Homo sapiens: one gene and its partners. The protein of the gene in region 1 purifies or fractionates together with the protein of each later gene. This does not show direct contact. Each region holds a gene or a part of one and is shown in the gene's direction. Other genes may lie near its edges. The genes, in order: TRAF3IP2, MAP3K7 and ELAVL1.

Region 1 (3,154 bases):
TTGGCCAGGCTGGTCTTGAACTCCTGACCTCAGGTAATCCACTCTCCTCAGCCTCCCCAGTGCTGGGATTACAGGCGTGAGCCACTGCGCCCTGCCCTGACACCTCTTTACCTTCATGCTGATATATTTCATTGTCCCTTTCTTAAGGGTGCTTAATTCTAGCACCTTGGGTCAATGGTATGTGTTTGGGTTGAGGGTACTGGGAATAATTGTTGAGAATTATTGGAGCATGGCGATATACAAAATAGACCAAATTTTCATTGGTTTTGTTATTATTTTTAAATCTCCTTCAGACAATGCCCGTATTACCTGAGCCCAGCACAGGCCGCTCTCACCACCTGTCCCCTTGGTACACCATTGACTAGAAAATCATTTGTTGACATTTTGCTTTCATCCTAAGATTTGAAGTCCTCAAGGCAGTCCCTGCGTCCTTTTCATTTGGGCATCCTCAGTACTCAGTATGATGCCTGCCATGCAGCAGGTGCTGCTTCTAAGCACAATACCTAGAGAAGTCCCGTCCTATAGTCCCTAGGAGTTAGACTCAAAAGCAAAGGCCTTATGGTGGCCTACAGGGCACTATCCGATACAGCCCCTTCTACTTCCAGACCTCTGCACCTACTCACTCTGCTCTACTCACAGTGGCCTTGTTGCTTGTGAACAGACCCAACACACTCCCTCCACAGGGCCTTCGCACTGACTCTCCTATCTGCCTGGACCCAGACAACCACAGAGCTTGCTTCTTCCACTCTTTTAGGTCTTTGCTCATTTTCTCAGTGAGACCTCTCCTAAGCACCCCGTTTAAAACTGCAAATCTTTCACCCTTGCCCCAGCACTCCCTGTCCCCTTTCTTGTTTAATTCTTCTCCACAGCATACATCACTGTTGAACACACTATCCATTTACTTATTATCTGCCTCTCCCCACCAGAACATCCACTCCATGAGGGCAGTCTGACACTGCACCCCCAGGATCCCTGGCTAACAGTTTCTGCCTCTGCCTGATCACTGAGGTCTGATGGGCTCCTTCTACTGCAGGCCAGACCTGGGGCTGGAGTGAAAGAGTAATGAATTGATTTAAGCCTACGGCCCTGGCATACTTCTTCTGAAGTCACAGGGGAATTCACATCACTCTGTGTGACCTCTGTCCTACCCCTTTTATGTGAGGGTGGTGAAAAGCAAGTTGAAATGCAAAGGGTAGGTAGTCTGGGAGACTGACAGAAAATGCTGTGCACATGTGGTTTTTATAATGAGATATACAGCTTGTACCCGAAGCCAAGAACATTTCACATGCTAAACCTTTCCAAAAGCAAAACAGCACAACTCCCAGGATAGTTTGGTAGGAAACGCCCATGTAGGGAAAGCCAGAAATGTTTGGGAACTGAGCCTGGGATCTGGCATCCAGGTTTTTCTCTAATGACCTTTGCTCCTGTCATTCTGCCTCCCATAGGAGCATGTGCCCACCTGGCTTCAGAACACTCATGTCTACAGCTGGCCCAAGAATAAAAAAAACATCCTGCTGCGGCTGCTGAGAGAGGAAGAGTATGTGGCTCCTCCACGGGGGCCTCTGCCCACCCTTCAGGTGGTTCCCTTGTGACACCGTTCATCCCCAGATCACTGAGGCCAGGCCATGTTTGGGGCCTTGTTCTGACAGCATTCTGGCTGAGGCTGGTCGGTAGCACTCCTGGCTGGTTTTTTTCTGTTCCTCCCCGAGAGGCCCTCTGGCCCCCAGGAAACCTGTTGTGCAGAGCTCTTCCCCGGAGACCTCCACACACCCTGGCTTTGAAGTGGAGTCTGTGACTGCTCTGCATTCTCTGCTTTTAAAAAAACCATTGCAGGTGCCAGTGTCCCATATGTTCCTCCTGACAGTTTGATGTGTCCATTCTGGGCCTCTCAGTGCTTAGCAAGTAGATAATGTAAGGGATGTGGCAGCAAATGGAAATGACTACAAACACTCTCCTATCAATCACTTCAGGCTACTTTTATGAGTTAGCCAGATGCTTGTGTATCCTCAGACCAAACTGATTCATGTACAAATAATAAAATGTTTACTCTTTTGTAAGATTATGTTTTACTTATCTCAAAGGAGATACATATAATTTATAATGATATGGGCAGTTGCTTCCAGGGACATCAACAAAGCTGCTTAGATATAATATTAGATAAATATAACAGACCACTCTGTATTAATGGATTAAAGCCAGCTAGTTAAACAACCCTTTTTAACCATAATCATGGAAGCTTTATTCTTGCAATAAAGATTTTTAGGCTGGGCGCAGTGACTCACACCTGTAATCCCAGCACTTTGGGAAGCTAAGGCAGGCAGATCATTTGAGGTCAGGAGTTTGAGACCAGCCTGGCCAACATGGTGAAACCCCATCTCTGCTAAAATTACAAAAAAGTTAGCCGGGCATGGTGGTGTGCACCTGTAATCCCAGCTACTCGGGAGGCTGAGGCAGGAGAATCACTTGAACCCGGGAGGCAGAGGTTGCAGTGAGCCGAGATCATGTCACTGCACTCTAGCTTGGGAGACAGAGCGAGACTCCGTCTCAAAAAACAAACAAACAAATAAAAACACCCATTTTTAACAAAACAACTTTATATAGCATACAGCCATGATTCTAAATAGTATGATTATGGTTCTCAGGATCTGACTACATAGGTAAAAATATTTGCATATGTGTATGAAGTGTTGGGGGATGTAGGCTAGAATTGTAGTCTGTGTTCTAATTTTGGTTCTACCACCAATTAGCTGTATGACCTTTAGCAAGTCCTTTAACTTTTCTTAGATTCCAGGGACTCATTTATAAAATGACATGGACAAAAGCATCTCTAATCACTCTAAAAGATTTGAAGTCTAGGACCTAAATTCTAAATACTCTTTTGAGGAGTGACTGAGTTTTCATTTTCATAATTATGTCTCTCAGAGGACAAATTTACATTTTCTTAACAGAGACATTTTCTTCTTCTTTTTTTTTGTTTGAGACAGAGTCTCGCTCTGTCGTCCAGGCTGGAGTGCAGTGCTGCAATCTTGGCTCACTGCAACCTGCGCCTCCTGGGTTCAAGTGATTCTTCTGCCTCAACCTCCCAAGTAGCTAGACCTATAGGCGCCTGCCACCATGCCCAGCTAATTTTTGTATTTTTAGTAGAGACAGGGTT
Region 2 (3,655 bases), about 21 Mb from region 1:
ATCCCATCTGCTCCTCTGAGCAATTCTCCCCTGTCTCTTGCATCATCAGTTTTAGCTTTCTACTGGATCATTCCTAAAACATACGTAGTCTGTATTTGCATTCACTAGCTTCTCTTTTCCCCTTCTTTCTTGAGCTGACTCCATTCAGACGTATTATGCCAGTACTTCAGAATTGTTCTTGTCAAGGTCACTAGTTATCTCTACATCACTACATTTAAGGAATCATTTTCATTTCTCATCTTGACTCTCAGTAGCACTTGACCTAATTCATTACTTTCTCCTTCTTACAGACAGCACTTTCTTCAGTTGGCCTCCGAGATACCATACTAGCCTAGATTCCATCTTACATCTCTGGCCGTCTGTTCTCAGTTTTCTTTGCTGGTTATTCCTCATCTCCCCAACCTAGAAATGTTGGAGTGCCCAGGGCCTGCTCATTTGGCTTCTTCACTTATCTGTCTGCACTCATTTCCTTGGTAACCTCATTCATTATTATGGCCTTATATACCATCTGTTGGCTCATAATGTTTTCCATCTTATACCTGAACTCTATACTCATATATCCAACTATTTCCTTTACATCTACTAGAAACTCAAACTTAATATTTTCCAAACTGAGTTCCTGATACTTCCTTCAAACTCACTCTTCCTTTAGTCTTTCCGCATCTCAATTAATAGCCCTCAGTTCTTCTACTAGCTCAGGTTAAAAACCTTAAGTTATTCTTGACTATTAGAAGACTATTTAGGCATCTTGGTTCCTTTTTTGTGCTATCCTTAAGTTTCTCTTAAAATGGGTTTGTTTGGATATCTTCATTAGCTTGAAAAGTCTTATTTTATTTCTGTTCCTGCCTGGCTAGTTTATAAAAGAATGTAAGTTACATAATACCAAGTGAAGCATTTGTATTATTTCCAGCCATTAGTCATAAATGTTTCTGCTTTTCCTAGGCTCATTCATGGACATTGCTTCTACAAATACGAGTAACAAAAGTGACACTAATATGGAGCAAGTTCCTGCCACAAATGATACTATTAAGCGCTTAGAATCAAAATTGTTGAAAAATCAGGCAAAGCAACAGGTTTGTTATGTTATTACAAGTAAAACTGGTAACCTTACCAGTAGTCACAATATTATACTAACTGAAATTAATTATTTACCATCTTCTATTTTATAAATCCTGAATTTTCTTCCTGAAACATGCAAAAGAGCTTACAAATAGAGACACGTAATGAGATTCTCCTACCATTTATTACCAAATGGTTTTTCCTTCTAATGATTGCTACCTTTGCCAATTCTAAATCCCTATCTATAATAATCCCTAAATGTAATGGTTGATGGTTAAAAATGTAAAATGGGTATATTTTGGCTGCGCTGCCCAGTTAGAGGAGTTGTTCTAAGTCTATCATTTCATGCTGTTCAGATTTATTATATTTTTGCCATTGTTGATTTTTAAAAATATTTCAAGGAGTGAGTTTATTCATTTTGCCTGAGGCATTTAGGTTAACGAATAATTGGGGCTTTTAGCTCCCAGTTCTAGTGACTGCCTTTTCATAAAGACAGTATCTGCAGCTTGCTTTCCCTTACCCCTGTAGCTCCCTCTCGTACAAACTTCCCTCTCCTTTCAGAGCAGAACAGGATCTATCAGAATCCCATTTGCCATCTTCCTCCTTTTAGGTTGCCTAAGATTGCTAAATCTAAAGAACTTCAGTAATTCAGATTGACCTGTAATTTTAACAGAGTGAATCTGGACGTTTAAGCTTGGGAGCCTCCCGTGGGAGCAGTGTGGAGAGCTTGCCCCCAACCTCTGAGGGCAAGAGGATGAGTGCTGACATGTCTGAAATAGAAGCTAGGATCGCCGCAACCACAGGTAAAAAGGAACTACAAGTCTGAAGAGTGAAAATGTATATAAGCCTTTTTGGCCATGGTAGTTTCAGTTGTCAAAGGTTTTTTGTGTGTGTCTTATATTTTTTTTTAAATAGGAAGTAGGTTTACAATATATTTTTCTAAGTTACTAGCAATAGTTTATGCATTTATCTCAAATTCCAAATAAGGAAGGTATGACTTGTAAAATTATTTGGATGAGAAAGTATGCCTTCCTCATTTACAGATTTTATCAAATGTAATTCTTTCTGCTCAAACATGAGTTGAAAGTCTAAGTGAGAAATTGAAATTCTGCCAAAACCAGAATATTTTGGGGATTTTCAGTGATACTACTAGATTTTTGTGCTGAACTCAAATAATAGCAAATATTTTGTTTCAAATTTAACAGAAAAATGTATTCCAGATCCATGTATGATTTGACCTTCTATCTGCTTCTTCATTCCAGTGACAAAATAATAGCTAAGCTGGTTGTGGTTAATTTTTTTAATTGTAAAATAAAATATCATAATTTTATTAGATCTTGAAAAAGCTAGCATTTAAATTCCATTGTTCAGTTCTTAAAATTATTAATCATGGAAGAACTGGTCAGCACAAAAACAATTACATGTTTTGTTACTTAAGTAAACTGACAACCTAATTCTGTGACCAGGTTTCATTTTAGTAATGCTGGTTTAATTTGGACGTTTTTGGTTTTTTGCTGATTCTTTCCAGGGATCAGGGGGAGCTGATTTTAAAAGTAAACACGTTTCTGTTGTGGAAAATGTGGAAATGTAAACAAGCCAAAAAAACTTACATAATTACCCCACTCAGAGATAAACACTTAACATTTTTGTGTATTTACCCCATCTTTTAACTATGTATGTGTATAAATGTATATATTCATGTGTATTTGCATCTTTTTTAACTTAGCTAACCAATTTTTTAGGTCTTTTTTTCACTTATTTGGTTTTTTTCTAAATAGAATATTCTCATTGTGTGTGGAGCTCTTTTCAGAAAGAAGTTGTCAAGATGGACCATCATACTATACTTGTCTTCAACTAATCATGATCATTGATTTTATCAGCTACTATTAGAATCCATTAGATATAACAGAATATCCGAAATAACAGTGTCTATAACACATAAGCATTATTTTTCACATATAAACAAGTCTGGAGGTAGTGGGCTCTGTGATCTTGAAGTAACTGGTCTCCTATTTCTGTGCTGTAATCCCTACTGTATAGCTTCCATTCTCAAAGTTATCCTGTGCTCCAAAATGGCTGTTGAAGTTCCATTTCATCACTTCTACATTCCAGGCAATAGGAAGGAAGACATGGGGGCAGGGCAAATAGACATCCAAGTTCTTTGAAGGAACATTCCCAGATGCCTCTCTTAACAACATCCACACATCATTGGTCAAAGTAACATGGTCGAATGGCTACACGTAGCTCCAAGGGAAGAGGAGATCTGCCCTCTTTTATCTGATGACTTTTCTGTCCTAAATAAAATCAGAGTACTATTGCTAAAACAGAAGGGAAGAGTGGAAACTGGCAGAAGATAGCTGTGTCTGCCACAGATGGGTCTTCAGAAACTATCAAGTTGAGTAGAAGTCACCAGCCACTGACAAGCCCATGAGTCTCCATGAGTCACAAGTATTTCTTTGGAGCAGGGTTGTCTCACTGTAGTGTCAGATGAACCCTACTCACCGGGACATACCCTCATGCTTTGAGGAACCCTTTTCACTTCAGGGATGTTGTTCAGGATAGATCTGCCACATACTAATTGCTGTCTCAAAACTGA
Region 3 (3,655 bases), on another chromosome or scaffold:
TTCACTATGTTGGCCATGCTGGTCTCAAACTCCTGACCTCAGGTGATCCGCCTACCTCGGCCTCCCACATTGCTGGGATTACAGGCATAAGCCACCACGCCAGGCCAGGAAGGTAGCTTTTTAAAGATGAGCCAGCCTGGTGTAGTGGCTCTCACCTATAATCCCAGCACTTTGGGAGGCCCAGGTGGGAGGATGACTTGAAGCCAGCATGGGCAACAAAATGAGACCCCTGTCTCTAAAAAAATTTAAAAATCAGCCAGGTATGGTGGCACACACCAGTAGTCCCAGCTACTTGGGAAACTGAGGCAGTTTGAGGCTGCAGTGAGCCGTGATTATGCCACTGCACTCTAGTTTGGCAGCAGAGCAAGACCCTTTCTCAAAAGAAAAATAAGTAAAAATAGAAGTGAGCTGGGAGGCCAGGCATGGTGGCTCACACCTGCAATTCCAGCACTTTGGGAGGCCAAAGTAGGAGGATCACTTGAGCTTGGGAGTTCAAGACCAGCCTGGGCAACAAAGAGAGACCCCCATCTCTTTAAAAAAAAATACTAATTTTAAAAAATGAGCTGGGAAGTGAAGGAGAGGACACTAGTGCCCTGCAGAGGGAACAGCCAAAGCAGAGGCCTGTAGCATATTGGCAAGAAGCTGGAGTGAGCGGGAAGGGAGGGTGGCGACTGAGGCTGGAGAACCACCTGGGTCCGATTGTGAAGGGCCTTGCCAGTTTGACAGTTGCATTGTCATGACAACTTGAGGCCTGGCCCTGCCACTTATTAATGGCATGCCTGACCGTGAGCATCATCGTGTGACCGCCGAGCCTCAATGGGTGGTGACCACTGACAGGGAATACCAGAGGGGTGAGCATCTTGATTGCAGGACAGTGCAGGCCTTGCACCTCGAGAGACAGAAGTGGCTACGACTTGGGAGTCAGTGATAATTGAGTGGTGACAAGGCCCAGTTGTGGTTGGAGCTTGTGGGATAGAAGCTGATTTGGCCCAGGATTGATGATGCAGATTTGGAGAAGGTCAAGGGAAGGGCCTCCAGAGAGTGGGGTGGGGGCCCAGAAACGTCATGAAACTGCTTTGCAGGGCAGGTTGTTGGTTTCTCCCGTGTTACTAGTTGACCAAGAACTTGACCTGCAGGGGCTGCTCAGCCTTGACTCAGAGTGTCAGGAGGAACAGGGCCGCAAAGCAGAAGTTCTCTTTTTAAACCTTTTAAAATTTATTTTTATTGTGGTTTTGTTGTTGTTTTTGAGGCAGGATCTCACTCTGTCGCCCACGCTGGACTGCAGTGGCACAATCATAGCTAACTGCAGTATTGACCTCCCAGGCTCTAGTGATCCTCCCAGCTGAGCCCCCCGATTAGCTGGGATTGCATACAGGTGTGCATCACCATTCCTGGGTAATTTTTAATTTTTTTTTTTTTTGTAATGATGGCATCTCTCTGTGCTGCCCAGGCTGGTCTTGAACTCCAGGCTTAAGCAGTCCTCCCACCTTGGCCTCTGAAAGCGCTGGGATTAAAGGCATGAGTCGCCACACTCAGACAATTTATTTTTAAATTTGCATGTAGGAAAATTCATTTTTTCGAGTAGAGTTCTCTGAGTTTTGACAAACGGATAAAGTTGTTTGATTACCACCATAATAAAGATTGGAAAGTTCGCTCTCCCACAAACAGAAATACTCCCTCCTCCTGTCCCTGTGTAATCGACTTTTCCCCTCACTCCCTAACCCCAGCGACCACAGATCCATCCCTATGGTTTTGCCTTTTCCAGGAAGGCACAGAAATGATGTGGCAAGATGTGTTTGAGATTCACACAAGTAGCATGAATTGGTGATACCTTTTATTGCCAGGTGGTATTCTGTTGTATGGTGTATCCCAGTTTATCCATGAATGGCTTGAAGAATATTTGGGTTGTTGTAGTTTTGGATGATTATGAATAATGCCGCTCTGCACATTTATATACAGATTTTTGTGTGAATATAGATTTTCCTTTCTATTGCCTTAATACTAGGAGTAGGATTGCTGGATCCCATGCTAAGTGTATATTTCACCATAAGAAACTGCCAATCTGTTTTCCAAAGTGGCTGTCACATTTCACATTTTTGCATTCCCACCAGCAGTGCATGAATATTCTGGCTTCTCCACATCCCTGCCAGCACTTGACATTGTCTGTTTTGTTGCTGTTGGTTGTTTTTTGTTTTATTTTGCTTTAGCCATTCTAATAAGTGGGTAGCGGTGTCTCGATGTGGTTTTAATTTGACTAATGATGTTGAGCATCTTTTCATGTGCCTGTCTGCCATCCATATATATTCTTTGGTATAGTATCTGTTCAAATCTTTTGCCATTTTTGAAACCAGGTTGTTTGCTCATTATGTTGTTTTTGGTTTTTGGAGATGGAGTCTGGCCCTATCGCCCAGTTTGGAGTACAGTGGCGCCATCTCGGCTCATTGCAACCTCTGCCTCCCAGGTTCAAGCGATTCTCCTGCCTCAGCCTCCCCAGTAACTGAGATTACAGATGCCCACCACCACGCCTTGCTAATTTTTTTTTTGTTGTATTTTTGTAGAGATGGGGTTTCACCATGTTGGCCGGACTGGTCTCAAACTCCTGACCTCAGGTGATCCACCCACCTCGGCCTCCCAAAGTGCTGGAATTCCAGGCATGAGCCAGCACACTAGCCTGCTTCTGTTTTGAGAGCTTAAAAAAAAGTGTTCTGGGCCAGGCGTGGTGGCTCACGCCTGTAATCCCAGCACTTTGGGAGGCCGAGGTGGGCAGATGGGCAGATCACGAGGTCAGGAGATGGAGACCATCCTGGCTAACACGGTGAAACCCCGTCTCTACTAAAAATACAAAAAATTAGCTGGGCATGGTGGCGGGCGCCTGTAGTCCCAGCTACTTGGGAGGCTGAGGCAGGAGAATGGCATGAACCCGGGAGGTGGAGCTTGCAGTGAGCGGAGATCATGCCACTGCACTCCAGCCTGGGTGACAGAGCAAGACTCCATTTCAAAAAAAAAAAAAAAAGGGTTCTGGGTTGGGTGAGGTGGCTTACGCCTATAATTCTAATACTTTGAGAGGCCAAGATGGGAGGATCACTTGACACCAGGAATTCAAGACCAGCGTGGGCAACATAGTGAGACCCTATCTCGACAAAAAATAAAAAATTAGCCAGAAGGCTGAGGCAGGAGGATTGCTTGAACCCAAGAGTTTGTGGCTGCAGTGAGCTATGATTATGGCATTGCACTTCAGCCTGGGCAGTGGAGTGAGACTTTGACTCAAAAAAAAAAAAAAGTGTTCTGACTACAAGTCCCTTTTGCAAATGTTTACTCCAGTTGGTGGATTTTAATTCTCCTAGCAGTATCTTTCACAGAGCAAAAGTTTCAAATTTTGATGATATCCAGTTTATCCATTTTTTTTTTTTTTTAACGAAGTGGGCTTTTGGTGTTGTGTCTGAGAAATCTTTCCCCAGCCCAATGCCACAAAGATTTTTCTCCAAGAAATTTTATGTTTTTACATTTTAAAACAGAGGTCGGCAGATTTTTTTTGTGTGAAGAGCCAGATGGTAAATATTCTCAGCTTTTTTGGCCATACGGTTGCTACTACTTAACTGTGTTATTGTAGTACAAAACTATCTATAGACAGACAATACATAAACAAATGAGACAA

Evidence for each region.
Region 2: the proteins of TRAF3IP2 (region 1) and MAP3K7 purify together in Homo sapiens (affinity purification with western blotting, with the first as the bait; one study listed by BioGRID). This does not show direct contact.
Region 3: the proteins of TRAF3IP2 (region 1) and ELAVL1 purify together in Homo sapiens (affinity purification with western blotting; one study listed by BioGRID). This does not show direct contact.

What each region holds. Positions count from the first base shown.
Region 1 is NC_000006.12:111,557,843-111,560,996, reverse strand, and holds part of TRAF3IP2 (E3 ubiquitin ligase TRAF3IP2), read left to right. Parts: intron 1-1,445; coding exon 1,446-1,592; 3' UTR 1,593-3,154. UniProt on the Homo sapiens protein: E3 ubiquitin ligase that catalyzes 'Lys-63'-linked polyubiquitination of target protein, enhancing protein-protein interaction and cell signaling. Transfers ubiquitin from E2 ubiquitin-conjugating enzyme UBE2V1-UBE2N to substrate protein.
Region 2 is NC_000006.12:90,545,465-90,549,119, reverse strand, and holds part of MAP3K7 (mitogen-activated protein kinase kinase kinase 7), read left to right. Parts: intron 1-942; coding exon 943-1,073; intron 1,074-1,732; coding exon 1,733-1,862; intron 1,863-3,655. UniProt on the Homo sapiens protein: Serine/threonine kinase which acts as an essential component of the MAP kinase signal transduction pathway. Plays an important role in the cascades of cellular responses evoked by changes in the environment.
Region 3 is NC_000019.10:7,995,542-7,999,196, reverse strand, and holds part of ELAVL1 (ELAV-like protein 1), read left to right. Parts: intron 1-3,655. UniProt on the Homo sapiens protein: RNA-binding protein that binds to the 3'-UTR region of mRNAs and increases their stability.